Homo sapiens: one gene and its partners. The protein of the gene in region 1 interacts with the protein of each later gene in a biochemical or structural test. Each region holds a gene or a part of one and is shown in the gene's direction. Other genes may lie near its edges. The genes, in order: PECAM1, PTPN6 and PTPN11.

Region 1 (3,748 bases):
CAGGGCGGCGGCTGGAACCAGGTCTCCATTCCTTAGGCCCCCTAGGCCAGCATTTGCAGTGCGTGGCCTGCAGGCTTGCTCTGAGTCTCCCGCTCTGCGGCTGGGGTCCTGGGACAGCCTCGGCCCTTTCCCTTCCTTCCATCTCAGGCCTCTTTGTTCCCCTCCAGCCCGCACCTCACTGCAGCTGCCTCACCTCAGGAGGTGACGGCTGCTCCATCTTCACCTAGAAAACAGTCATCTGGAGGGAACTCCCTCAACTTCCCGCCTGGGCCTGGCTGCAGGCTTATCAGCCTCTCCACCCATCCTCTCGGTTTCCCTCCCGGCCTCGGAGGACACATGCACCCTGCTCCTCAGCTGATGGGGGCCAGCCAGGCACTTAGGCTGAGACCCTTCCTCACCCCCAGGACCCCACGCCTACGTGCATTCAAGTCCCTCTCCCCTACCACCACTTCTAGAATCTCTATTTCTGCTTCTGGCTCTGTTCTCTCAGTGAATGGGAACTCTTTTTTTAGGAAAAAGAAAAATCACAAGCAGACACCCACCCCCACCGTTTATCTGGTGTCCCCCTATCTGGCCTTTCTAGTTTCCTTTCTCAGTCGAACCTCTCTGAAAGTTAGTTTATAATCTGTGCCTACCCACCTCACCTCTCAGACACGCCTCGCCTCCCAGCAGCCTGGCCTCAGGCCCCACTTCTCCGGCTGTTGGGTCTCCTCTTGCTGAGGGGTCACCAAGGACCACCTGATGCCAAATGCAACGGACACTTCCAGCCCTCGGCTCCCTGTACCCCTTTCCTGCCTTTGACTTTTGATCGTGCCCCAAAGCCTCGCTCCTTGACCTTTTCCATCCTCTTCCCTGCTTTGTCTCCTCACTCTCTAACAAACCCTCTTCCTTCTCCCCCATGGCTGACTTTGGACTTACTTTGTCTTCTCCTGGAGTCTGAACCCTGTCCTGGTCTCTGCGGGCTCCTGGTCTTATCCTCCCTGGAGACCAGCTCCCCTCTCAACACCTCCACATTCCCCCCTCCTCCCCTAAGTTCACACTCCTCCCACCTTCACAGTCCAGCCCTGGCCTCTGCCCTGAGCCTCCAGTTAACACAGGCTGACCTTTGATGTCTCCTCCCAGTCCTCCTACTGGCCCCTCACACGCAGCTGCACCACCATCACTTTGTCTTCCTTCCTTATCTTTTTCTGTTTGTTTGTTTGTTTTTGTAGAGACTGGGGTCTCATTTTGTTGCCCAGGCTGGTCTCAAACTCCTGGGCTGAAGCCATCCTCCTGCCTCGGCCTCCGAAAGTGCTGGGATAACAGATATGAGCCACCACACCCAGCTGCGTGTGGCATTTTCTATTTTAGTTTGGTGGCACACACATCCTCCTGGGAATCTAATCCAGGAAGTTTATCTTCCATTCTTTCAACCCCATATCCAATCAAACAAAGTCTTTTTTTAAATTGTGGTAAAATACAAATAATATAACATTTATTATTAATGACATTTAGTACATTCACGGTGTTGTGCAACCATCACCATTGTCTAATTCTAGAACATATTCTTTCTTTTTCTTTTTTTTTTTTTTTTGACAGAGTCTCACTCTTGTTGCCCAGGCTGGAGTGCAGTGGTTGGATCTCAGCTCACTGCAACCTTCACCTCCCAGATTCAAGCAATTCTCCTGCCTCACCCTCCTGAGTAGCTGCAATTACAGGCACGAACCACCATGCCCGGCTAATTTTTGTATTTTTAGTAGAGACAAGGTTTTGCCATGTTGGCCAGGCTATTCTCAAACTCCTGACCTTAAGTGATCCACCTGTCTTGGCCTCCCGAAGTGCTGGGATTCATTCTAGAACATTTTCAACACCCCAGAAACAAGTCCTGTTGAGTCCACTCAGGAGATCCCCAGCCTATCCTTCCCTCATCCCCACTGCACCCGCCTAGCTCAGGCCTCATCAGCTTTCACCTGAACCACTTCCAAGCTGTTTACTGGCCTTGGGTGCTGTCACACCCCTCCTGACACCCTCAGGACAGGGCCCAGCTTGTCAGCACAGCAGGCCAGCCCTCCATTCTGGCACGACAGACCCAGCCACCTGGCCTCTCTAGCCCCACACTCTGGTTTCTGTAATGGGCCATGCCCAGAAGGCACGGATTTCTCACACCCTCGTGTCCTGGGACACGCTGTTCTCTTACCTGGAGTACCCCACTGCCTGTCCTTGGCCTGGCAGGCTCAGTTCAGTGGTCACTTCCTTCAGACTCCTTGACCTCTCCTGGGCAGCCCTTCCTCTTGGTGCTTACTGATATCACTGGAGTCCAGCTATGTGGGCCCCAGCAACCTTTGCTGTTTGGGACAGCAAGGATGATTTCTTACTTACTCTGTCAGCCCAGCACCTGGCACAGGTTCTCGACACATGTCTCATTGGATGGGAACTTGAACTGAACTTGGAGATGCTTGAGATTCGGGTAGGAAGATGGCTCAGCATGCTCTCTGATGAGCACAGAAGTTCATCAGGGACTCTATGCTTCGTGGCTCCCAGTAATTTTCCTGACGAGGGTGGGCAGCCCCTCCTTCTCCTGCACCCTCCACTTTCTCTCTGAGTCATTTCCAGGTTGAGGGCCAGGGGGCTGGCTGACTGATGGTGCCGCATGTTTCCAGGGAGCACCACCATCCACTGATGAGTGGCCTTGAGGTCAAGGTCCCACTGTTTTTAGCATGTTGGGGTTTGGCACTGTGGTCACTGGCTGTTCCGTGGTGACTTTCCAAATTTAGATCCTTCTCCGTCAACCTTCATCTCCCCGGGTTGAAAAGATCTGACCTCTTTAGGCTGTCCCACAGCCCCACCCTTCATCACAATAGTCCTGAAACTTTTTGGGTTCAGTAAGGAAATCTGTGGGCCTTCTCTCCAGAAAAAGCACACATTTGCACACAATTGGAGGTAGTTGATGAGCCTCCTAACACCCACCCATGCACCTCCCAGGGGCTGTGTCCCCCAGGTTGTGAACAGTCACTCTGTGTAAATAGTGAGACCTACAGGCAGTAATTCAGTTTGGCTGTGCTTGGCTGGTTTATTTAGAAAGATGATAATGTTTTCCATATTATCAAAACAAGAATCAGGCAGAGACTTTTGAAGTTTGGTTGCGTGGTATATTTGTTACCTATTGCTGCATAACAATTTACCTAAAACTTACTGGCTTAAGATAACACAGATTTATTATCCTGAAGTTTCTGAGGGTCAGGAATGCAGGAGTGGCTGAGTTGGGTGGTGCTGGCACCGGGTCTCATTAGATTGCAGATAAATTGTTGGTCAGGGTTGCGGTTATCTGAAGGCTTGACTGAGTCTGGGGAATCTGCTTCCAAGCTCACTCCTGTGGCTATGGGCTGGAGGCCTTAGTTCCTCATCCTGGGTACCTTCCACAGGGCTGCTTATGCTATGACTGCTGGCATTCCCCAGAATGAGGGATCCCAGACAGGAGAGAGAGTGATCAGGATAAAAGCTGCATTGTCTTTTATTACCTGATGGAGTATTTTGTTGGTTAATGTTAACGTGGGAGGTGACCACGTGTAAGTGTGATGAGCAGAGGGCAAGGACCATTGGGGGGGGCATCTTGAAGGGCTTCTATAGCAAGGGAGGTGGTGGTGGTTGTGGCGGTAAAAACTAGGTCACTGTTTTTGTTGTTTTGTCGATGATATTTGTGTTAAGATGAAGAGCTGAGACTCATATCTCAACAGAGTTTATAAAATGCTTTTCTTTTTTCCATCCTGCC
Region 2 (3,748 bases), on another chromosome or scaffold:
GAATGACCCTCTACAGCAGGGTCCCCACCTCTCAGAACAACTTTGCTCCAGCCACATGGCTTGCTCACGGCCAGGCACTGCCCATGTGGACTCTGTGCGTGCCACCTCTTTGCCCTGACCCATGTTGCCTCTGGGGGAGCACTTCTTCCTCCACCTTCCATCATGGGCTGTGGCAGTGCCCATCCCATCTGCCCCCGACGCTGTCTGCTGCAGTATGGTTGTTGGGGGAAAGGGCACCAGGCTCCGGCGTCTGACAGCCGTGTTTTACCCACCTTCCTACTCACTAGCTTGTGACCTTGGGCAATTACTTAACATCTCTGAGTCTTAGTTTCTGTTTCTAAAATTGGGTGAATAACACCTACTAAGTAGGGTTGGCCTGAGGATTAATAGTATAATGTAAAAGCTGGCAGCACTGAAACCCTGCCACTTACCAGCTTTTCACATCAGTATTTGGGAAATATTGTTAAGCTCATTTGTCAGGCGGGGATTCTGAGGCTCAGAGCAGTTCCAGAACTTTCTACAGATTATTTTGCCTTGTTTGCGCTTCCAGACTGCCTATCTTCTTGTATCACCATTGATCTTGATCTGTATGGTTTTTAATTTTTTTTTTTTTGAGACGGAGTTTCACTCTGTTGCCCAGGCTGGAGTGCGGTGGCATGATCTCGGCTCACTGCAACCTCCACCTCCTGAGAAGCTGGGATTACAGGCATGTGCCACCACACCCGGCTAATCTTTGTATTTTTAGTAGAGTTGGGGTTTCACTATGTTGGCCAGGCTGGTCTCGATCTCCTGACCTCGTGATCCGCCAGCCTTGGCCTCCCAAAGTGCTGGGATTACAGGCGTGAGCCACTGCGCCCGGCCAACTTCACGTTTATACACACCCATGCAAACAGCATCCAGATAGAGACAAAGAGCCTTCCCTGTACCCTAAAAGTTTCCCAGAAATTGTTCCCAGTTAGCATATTTATTTTTATAAAGGTAATGCATGCCCATCATATAACATTCAAAAAGGTATGTAGAGAACCAAGTGTCTCCCCCAGCCCTGTCCTCCAGCCACCCAGTTTCCCTCCCTAGGGGAAGCCACCAATATGTGTTTCTTATGTATCCCCTGTTGAGCTGCTTTTCCTCGTTTTGGTTTGGCGGTGTTGATGTTTGTATTTGGAATTACAGGTAGGCAGCATCATATACCTTAGTGTTTAGGGCCTCTAAGATCAACCAGCCCTGAGAAAATCAGCCATGGTGAGGACCTTGTCCCCCAGCCCCCCAGGAGATAGGCCCCCTGGTGGGAGTGCTGGGGCAGGGCAGAGGCCTAGGGACAAGAATTAGAAAGGACCCATGTTGACAGGGCTGCTCAGGGTCATGTTGTCCATCCCTCTGCCACAGTGGCATGGACAAACTGCATATGTTGGTTAGAGGAGGGCACCCTTCTCTCTTGCAAGCATTGGCAAGGTCTTAACTATTAGTCTCCTGCTCCCATGGCAGCCCCTTTGGACAAGGAGGCTCTTAATCTCTGTTCTTTGAAGCCCTGAGGGCTGGTGTATAGGAGTTCAAAGCACTGGCTTTGGAACCGGACTGTCTGGGTTTGAATCCTGGCACTGCAGCTGACTCACTGATGGACTCAGGCAATGCCTTAAACTCCCTGAGCCTCAGGTTCCTTGTCTGTAAAATGATAAAGATAGCCCCTGTTTCATAGGGCTGTGGTGAGAAACCAATCAGACAAGGCATGTGAACGCCATTATAGCACAGCGCCCGGCATCCAGCAGGACTCACTCGATGACAGTTGTCACCGCCATCATTGTTATTAGCGTGGGCCAGGGAGGGCTGCGTAAAAGCAGCTGGTGGAGGAGGGAGAGATGCCGTGGGACCGTCTGGGTTCGCATGCGTGAAGTATTATCTGGGCCTGGAGTGTGCAAGGCACACATGTGTCCTTACTGCATGTGTTGTCACATATGTGCAATGCCATGCTCCTGAGCCTTTGATTGCAGACGTGTGGGAAGTGGGCCCCGTCCCCACCCCCAGTGCCACCCTGCTCTGCTTCTCTTCCCTTGCTGTGCTCTAAAACGAGAAGTACAAGTGAGTTCCCCCAAGGGGTCGGCCGCGCCTCTTCCTGTCCCCGCCCTGCCGGCTGCCCCAGGCCAGTGGAGTGGCAGCCCCAGAACTGGGACCACCGGGGGTGGTGAGGCGGCCCGGCACTGGGAGCTGCATCTGAGGCTTAGTCCCTGAGCTCTCTGCCTGCCCAGACTAGCTGCACCTCCTCATTCCCTGCGCCCCCTTCCTCTCCGGAAGCCCCCAGGATGGTGAGGTAAGGGCCTGCCACCCACGGTAGACAGGAGGCAAGGGTGCCTGGTGCCCACGGGACCCCTCCTCACTGCCCTGCCTGGGCCGCCCAGGTGGTTTCACCGAGACCTCAGTGGGCTGGATGCAGAGACCCTGCTCAAGGGCCGAGGTGTCCACGGTAGCTTCCTGGCTCGGCCCAGTCGCAAGAACCAGGGTGACTTCTCGCTCTCCGTCAGGTAGGTGGGCCCCCCGCAACCCCGGGCATTTTGGCCACTCTCTTGTGCCATCCAGGCCCTGAACCACTCATTCCTGGTTCCCCGTGGCAGTGCTGACTCCCCGTCTGTTCCCTTGCCCCCAACCCCCACACTCCCCATCCCTGTCTGTGCCCACCCATGCCCATGTGTGCCCCCACCCAGGACCTCAGCCGATCCCTGCCCTCCTGCCTCTACTCCTGCACCGACTGGCCTCACCGCCTGGTGCCCTGCAGGGTGGGGGATCAGGTGACCCATATTCGGATCCAGAACTCAGGGGATTTCTATGACCTGTATGGAGGGGAGAAGTTTGCGACTCTGACAGAGCTGGTGGAGTACTACACTCAGCAGCAGGGTGTCCTGCAGGACCGCGACGGCACCATCATCCACCTCAAGTACCCGCTGAACTGCTCCGATCCCACTAGTGAGAGGTGAGGGCTCCGCACCCCCGCCATTCCCAAGCAGGGATGAGCCGGCTCCCACCCTGAACAGCCAGGGAGGCAGGGAGACTGGCAGCCGGCGCTGCCTACCCTCCATCCCCTCCCCTCCCTGCACCAGCTGGGGCTCTCAATGTCCCTCCTCCCTGCTGTCCTGGGACCTGGTGTCTCAGAGCCTAACCTACCACCCTTTCCACCTAACCCCGAGGAAGCCACAGAAAGCTGCCTCGCCCTACTCCGGGAGCCCTGGCCGCTGCAACCCAGGTCCCACTGGAGACAGGGAGGCCACTGCTGGTGGCCAGCATGTCGTGCAGGCCAGCTCTGTTGTTAGAAAGCTCTTCTTCCTCTGGAATCGAGCCTGCCTTCCTCCGTCTGCCCCTCACCCCAGCACATGTTAGGACAGTGAGGAGCTGACACTGGGGTGAAGATGGGGATGAATGCTTGCCAAGACACTTGATGCCTTGTCCCAGCCGCCCCGTGGGGATGGGTCTGTCCTGTGGGGTCAAATAGGTCTCCGGCCCAAACAGAGATCATTGAGAGCACGATGTGAAGTGTTCACCTGTGTAAAGTGTCTCACGCTGTCCCGGGCACAGAGTAATACTCCAGGCATTTCCTTCCTGTGGCCTCCCCGACTCCTCCTGTGGTCTCCCAAAGGCATGGGCTGGGGGCTGGGGGCTCTGAATGCTCCTCATGACACCATGGCTCCTTTCAGCAGCCGCATCTCAATGCCAGATCCCCTTAGAGTAAAGGGCAGCGGAATAACGCTAGGGGGTTTTCACATGC
Region 3 (3,748 bases), on another chromosome or scaffold:
CCTTTTGATAAGCAAAATTTGAAACCATTTAAAGACCACTGTATTTTAACTCAACAATACCTGCTTCCCAATTACTCATTTCCTCAGATAAGAAGAAATCATCTCTACAATGTAGACAACATTATATTTTATAGAATTTGTTTGAAATTGAGGAAGCAGTTAAATTGTGCGCTGTATTTTGCAGATTATGGGGATTCAAATTCTAGTAATAGGCTTTTTTATTTTTATTTTTATACCCTTAACCAGTTTAATTTTTTTTTTCCTCATTGTTGGGGATGATGAGAAGAAATGATTTGGGAAAATTAAGTAACAACGACCTAGAAAAGTGAGAACAATCTCATTTACCATCATGTATCCAGTAGTGGATAATTCATTTTGATGGCTTCTATTTTTGGCCAAATGAGAATTAAGCCAGTGCCTGAGACTGTCAGAAGTTGACCTTTGCACTGGCATTAAAGAGTCATAGAAAAAGAATCATGGATATTTATGAATTAAGGTAAGAGGTGTGGCTTTTTTTTTTTTCTTTTTTCCAGCCGTTGACCAATTATAGTTCGGCTGTTGACTGAGAAGTTTGTGGTGGGAAAACGTTTGCCATATTTTCTTTGCATTTGAATAATTGTCTTGTACTTAGAAAAAAGGCGTCTATGAATGACCAGTGTTTTTGGTCGCCAAATGTTGCTGACAAACTTATCCCAAAACTTTAGTGGCTTAAAAAAACCTGCCCCCAACTGTTAGTCAATCTGAGCTGGGCTCAGCTGGGCTGTTCTTCTGCCAGCCTGCAGGTGGCCACTCATGTGGTCAGCAGGTCGGCGGAGAGACTGGGATGGCTGGGCTTCTCTCTCTGCCTGCAGTCCTGAGTCTCTCCTTCTTCGTGTAGTCTCTTTCAGTGGCCTGGCTGGCAGGGTAGCTAGACCTCTCACATGCAGCTCAGAGCTCCCAAGAGCTCAAAAGCAGAAATGGCCAGGCCTTCTGAAAACTTAAGTCCAGAATTGTCACAGTGTCCCTTCTACTTCCCTCTATTGATGATGATGATGATGATGATGATGATGATGATGATGATGATGATGGTTTTTTCTAATCAGAAGAAAGCTGGGGTATGCCCTCTACTTACTAAACAAGTCACAAGCCCAGCTCAGATTCAAGAAAAGGGTGTGAAGTAGAGGTGCAGTTAAGTGGGGGGCCACTAGTCTAACAGACGGTCACAACCAGTGCCATGGAAAACCAAGGATATTAGCAAAAGCAGAAGTTGCTAGTGACCTTGGGAAGCCGAAGCTGCTTACAGTAGCTGGGACAAGCTGAAAGTCAGACTAAGAAATAAAGAGAGGGCCTTCAAGAAGCTTCCTGAATGATTTCTGCTAGCCCTGAGCCTATTTTTGGAACCAGCACTTGGGGAAACTGATCTTGTGAGGATGGATGTGTTTAGGGACACAGGGCTTTTGAGAGCAGCACCACCCCACTGGGGCATCCCCAGACTTGGGAAACGTGACTCTTTCTTAATGCCACTGGGTTTTAGTCAGGCCACAGTGAGAAGGAACAGCCCTAACAGGCCTCCAGCCAGGTTGAATGAGCTCATTTTTGTTGTAGCCAACCAGTAAGATTTGCTAATGTTCTACATTAAGTGCCTTCTCCAAAGACATCCCTCTTTGCCTCATATGTTGAATCATCCAGTGCGGATATTTCAATGAAAATATCATTGGTTGACTTTTGTGATGGTAATAATGCTATGGCATCTTTGCCATGAAGTTGTGGCCTCCTTGGATTCTTCTGACTTTGGCTTCTGAAAGGAAGGCCTAGATCCAGCCCTGGTGGTAGTTCCTTTCTGAGGTCTCTCAGTCCCTTGAGACTTTGGGGTAGTTTGGCTGCCATTCTCACTGACAAAATGTATATCAGCCCCCACCTCCACCCCCCAATATTCCTTGAACTTTGAATTGCTTCAGAACACAGGTGTGGCCTGAAGGTATTCCCTTATTAGGGAAGTGTCACTGCTGTCTTCTAGTCAAACTTGTAAAGAAAAAGATTCCAGTTCAGTATTTGCAGCAAGAAGCTTGAATGCTGTTCTTTTTATCGCATTGTTACATCGACTCATTCTCCATTTTGCTTTGGTTTTGTCTTGACTTGACTTGACTTTGGGGGTAAAGTCTTTCACCAGCACACAAGAGTTTGATTGTACAAATATATCTTCTGCATTAACATCTCTGCCTGTTGCTTAAGATCAGTTGCTTTTATACTCAGAATGGAAATACCTGATCTTGGCTAGTTTTGTTATAAGATATTGATTTCATTTAGATTTCCCTCCACGAGGTCAGCAAACTATCATGTTCTTATGTAAACTTAGGCCAAGGCCAGAGTTATCATAGTCCCTAGGTTGCTACGGCTTATCATGTGCTTGGTAAAAGGTGATCGCAGGTTCTCAGACGAGTTTACTTTACATGAGATGGAATCAGGCAGAGAGGCTGGGATGATGGAGAAAGCTCGAGGTGAAGTTTTAAAAAAAAAGTTGTGGAAAGGAAAGTTCCAAAGAGGTGGTTTCTGAGGAAGTCAGAGCGCCCAGGGCCAGAGCAGTCAGTAATGGGTGAATGAGGTTGTTTGGAAAGTCGGTGTGACAGACACATGGATGCCATCTACTTCTAGGTTGCTGGTGGGTATTAAATATGCACAATATTCCATAGCTCACTGAGGATTTTAAAATTATAAGCATAGGATTTTATATTTTGGGGTGAAAGAATTATCTGGCACATTAGGTATTGGAGTTTAAAAAAAAAGCCAAATTTCACAGTCTTAATAACTTTTTTTAAAAAAAACTAAAAGGCGCTTCATGTCCAGTGTGTGGCCCTTCTGAAACTTATGGTCATCTCTCCCACTGAAACCAAGGTCTTTTCAAATGTGGCTAAATGGGGATGAGGAGACACGGGTAGGACTTTCTTGGTGTGTGTGCATTCTTTAAAGAGCCAAGTTGCTTCGGGGAAACAGCCAGGAAAATGGTCAAGATTATTTTTAGAGGTTATTTTATTGGGGATTTTAAGAACTAATAACATCTTGAGTTATTTTTAATTCAGGGGGATGTGGAAAGGTTTGCAATTGTCAAGTGTTTTGTTGTAGCTTAGTATCCATAAGGGAAACTTAGACTATAGACATAACTACAAAGCCAGTGCAGCTTTTGTTTTCTGTATGTTGTTGGGGGATCAACTTTCACACATAGCAAGCACATGGCCTCCCTGATGTCAGGATGCCTTTGTTAGGATCTGTATTTGCCCTTAATTTTGTTGAAATCTTTTTTCCTTCTTCCTCTTGAAAAGTTCCAAAATATAGTTTATTGTATCTTTCATCACTAAAAATTTGTTCCTTTTTCACTATGGGCAGTTCACACAAGGCAAAAACTATTGAACAGTTGGTTTTAGTGTGTTGTATAACTTTGCTGTATATCAAACTAATTTTGACAAGTTTTCATCCTAAGCCTCAAATCATGTAATTAATAATTTGCCTGTTTATTTATGACCTAATTGTGATTCTTTTATTAATAAAAGCTAATGGGAAAAGGATCCCTGATTAAGCTGATGACTAGACCTACAATTAATTTTCCTGCAGTATATGAAGTATTGTACCAGAGTATTAAAAGATATGTAATATTTTATTGATAAATCTATCCTTTAAAAGGAATACGTTTTAGGATGTCATCATTTTGATGTGAATCATGTAAATGTTGATAATATGCTGTTTATTATACATTTAGTGTTTCAAGAGATTCACT

What was found.
Region 2: the proteins of PECAM1 (region 1) and PTPN6 form a complex in vitro, tested with the Homo sapiens proteins (2 studies listed by BioGRID, with this or other methods).
Region 3: the proteins of PECAM1 (region 1) and PTPN11 form a complex in vitro, tested with the Homo sapiens proteins (4 studies listed by BioGRID, with this or other methods).

What each region holds. Positions count from the first base shown.
Region 1 is NC_000017.11:64,384,229-64,387,976, reverse strand, and holds part of PECAM1 (platelet endothelial cell adhesion molecule precursor), read left to right. Parts: intron 1-3,748. UniProt on the Homo sapiens protein: Cell adhesion molecule which is required for leukocyte transendothelial migration (TEM) under most inflammatory conditions.
Region 2 is NC_000012.12:6,949,219-6,952,966, forward strand, and holds the start of PTPN6 (tyrosine-protein phosphatase non-receptor type 6), read left to right. Parts: upstream 1-2,137; 5' UTR 2,138-2,294; coding exon 2,295-2,302; intron 2,303-2,390; coding exon 2,391-2,513; intron 2,514-2,764; coding exon 2,765-2,959; intron 2,960-3,748. UniProt on the Homo sapiens protein: Tyrosine phosphatase enzyme that plays important roles in controlling immune signaling pathways and fundamental physiological processes such as hematopoiesis.
Region 3 is NC_000012.12:112,505,927-112,509,674, forward strand, and holds part of PTPN11 (tyrosine-protein phosphatase non-receptor type 11), read left to right. Parts: 3' UTR 1-3,748. UniProt on the Homo sapiens protein: Acts downstream of various receptor and cytoplasmic protein tyrosine kinases to participate in the signal transduction from the cell surface to the nucleus. Positively regulates MAPK signal transduction pathway. Dephosphorylates GAB1, ARHGAP35 and EGFR.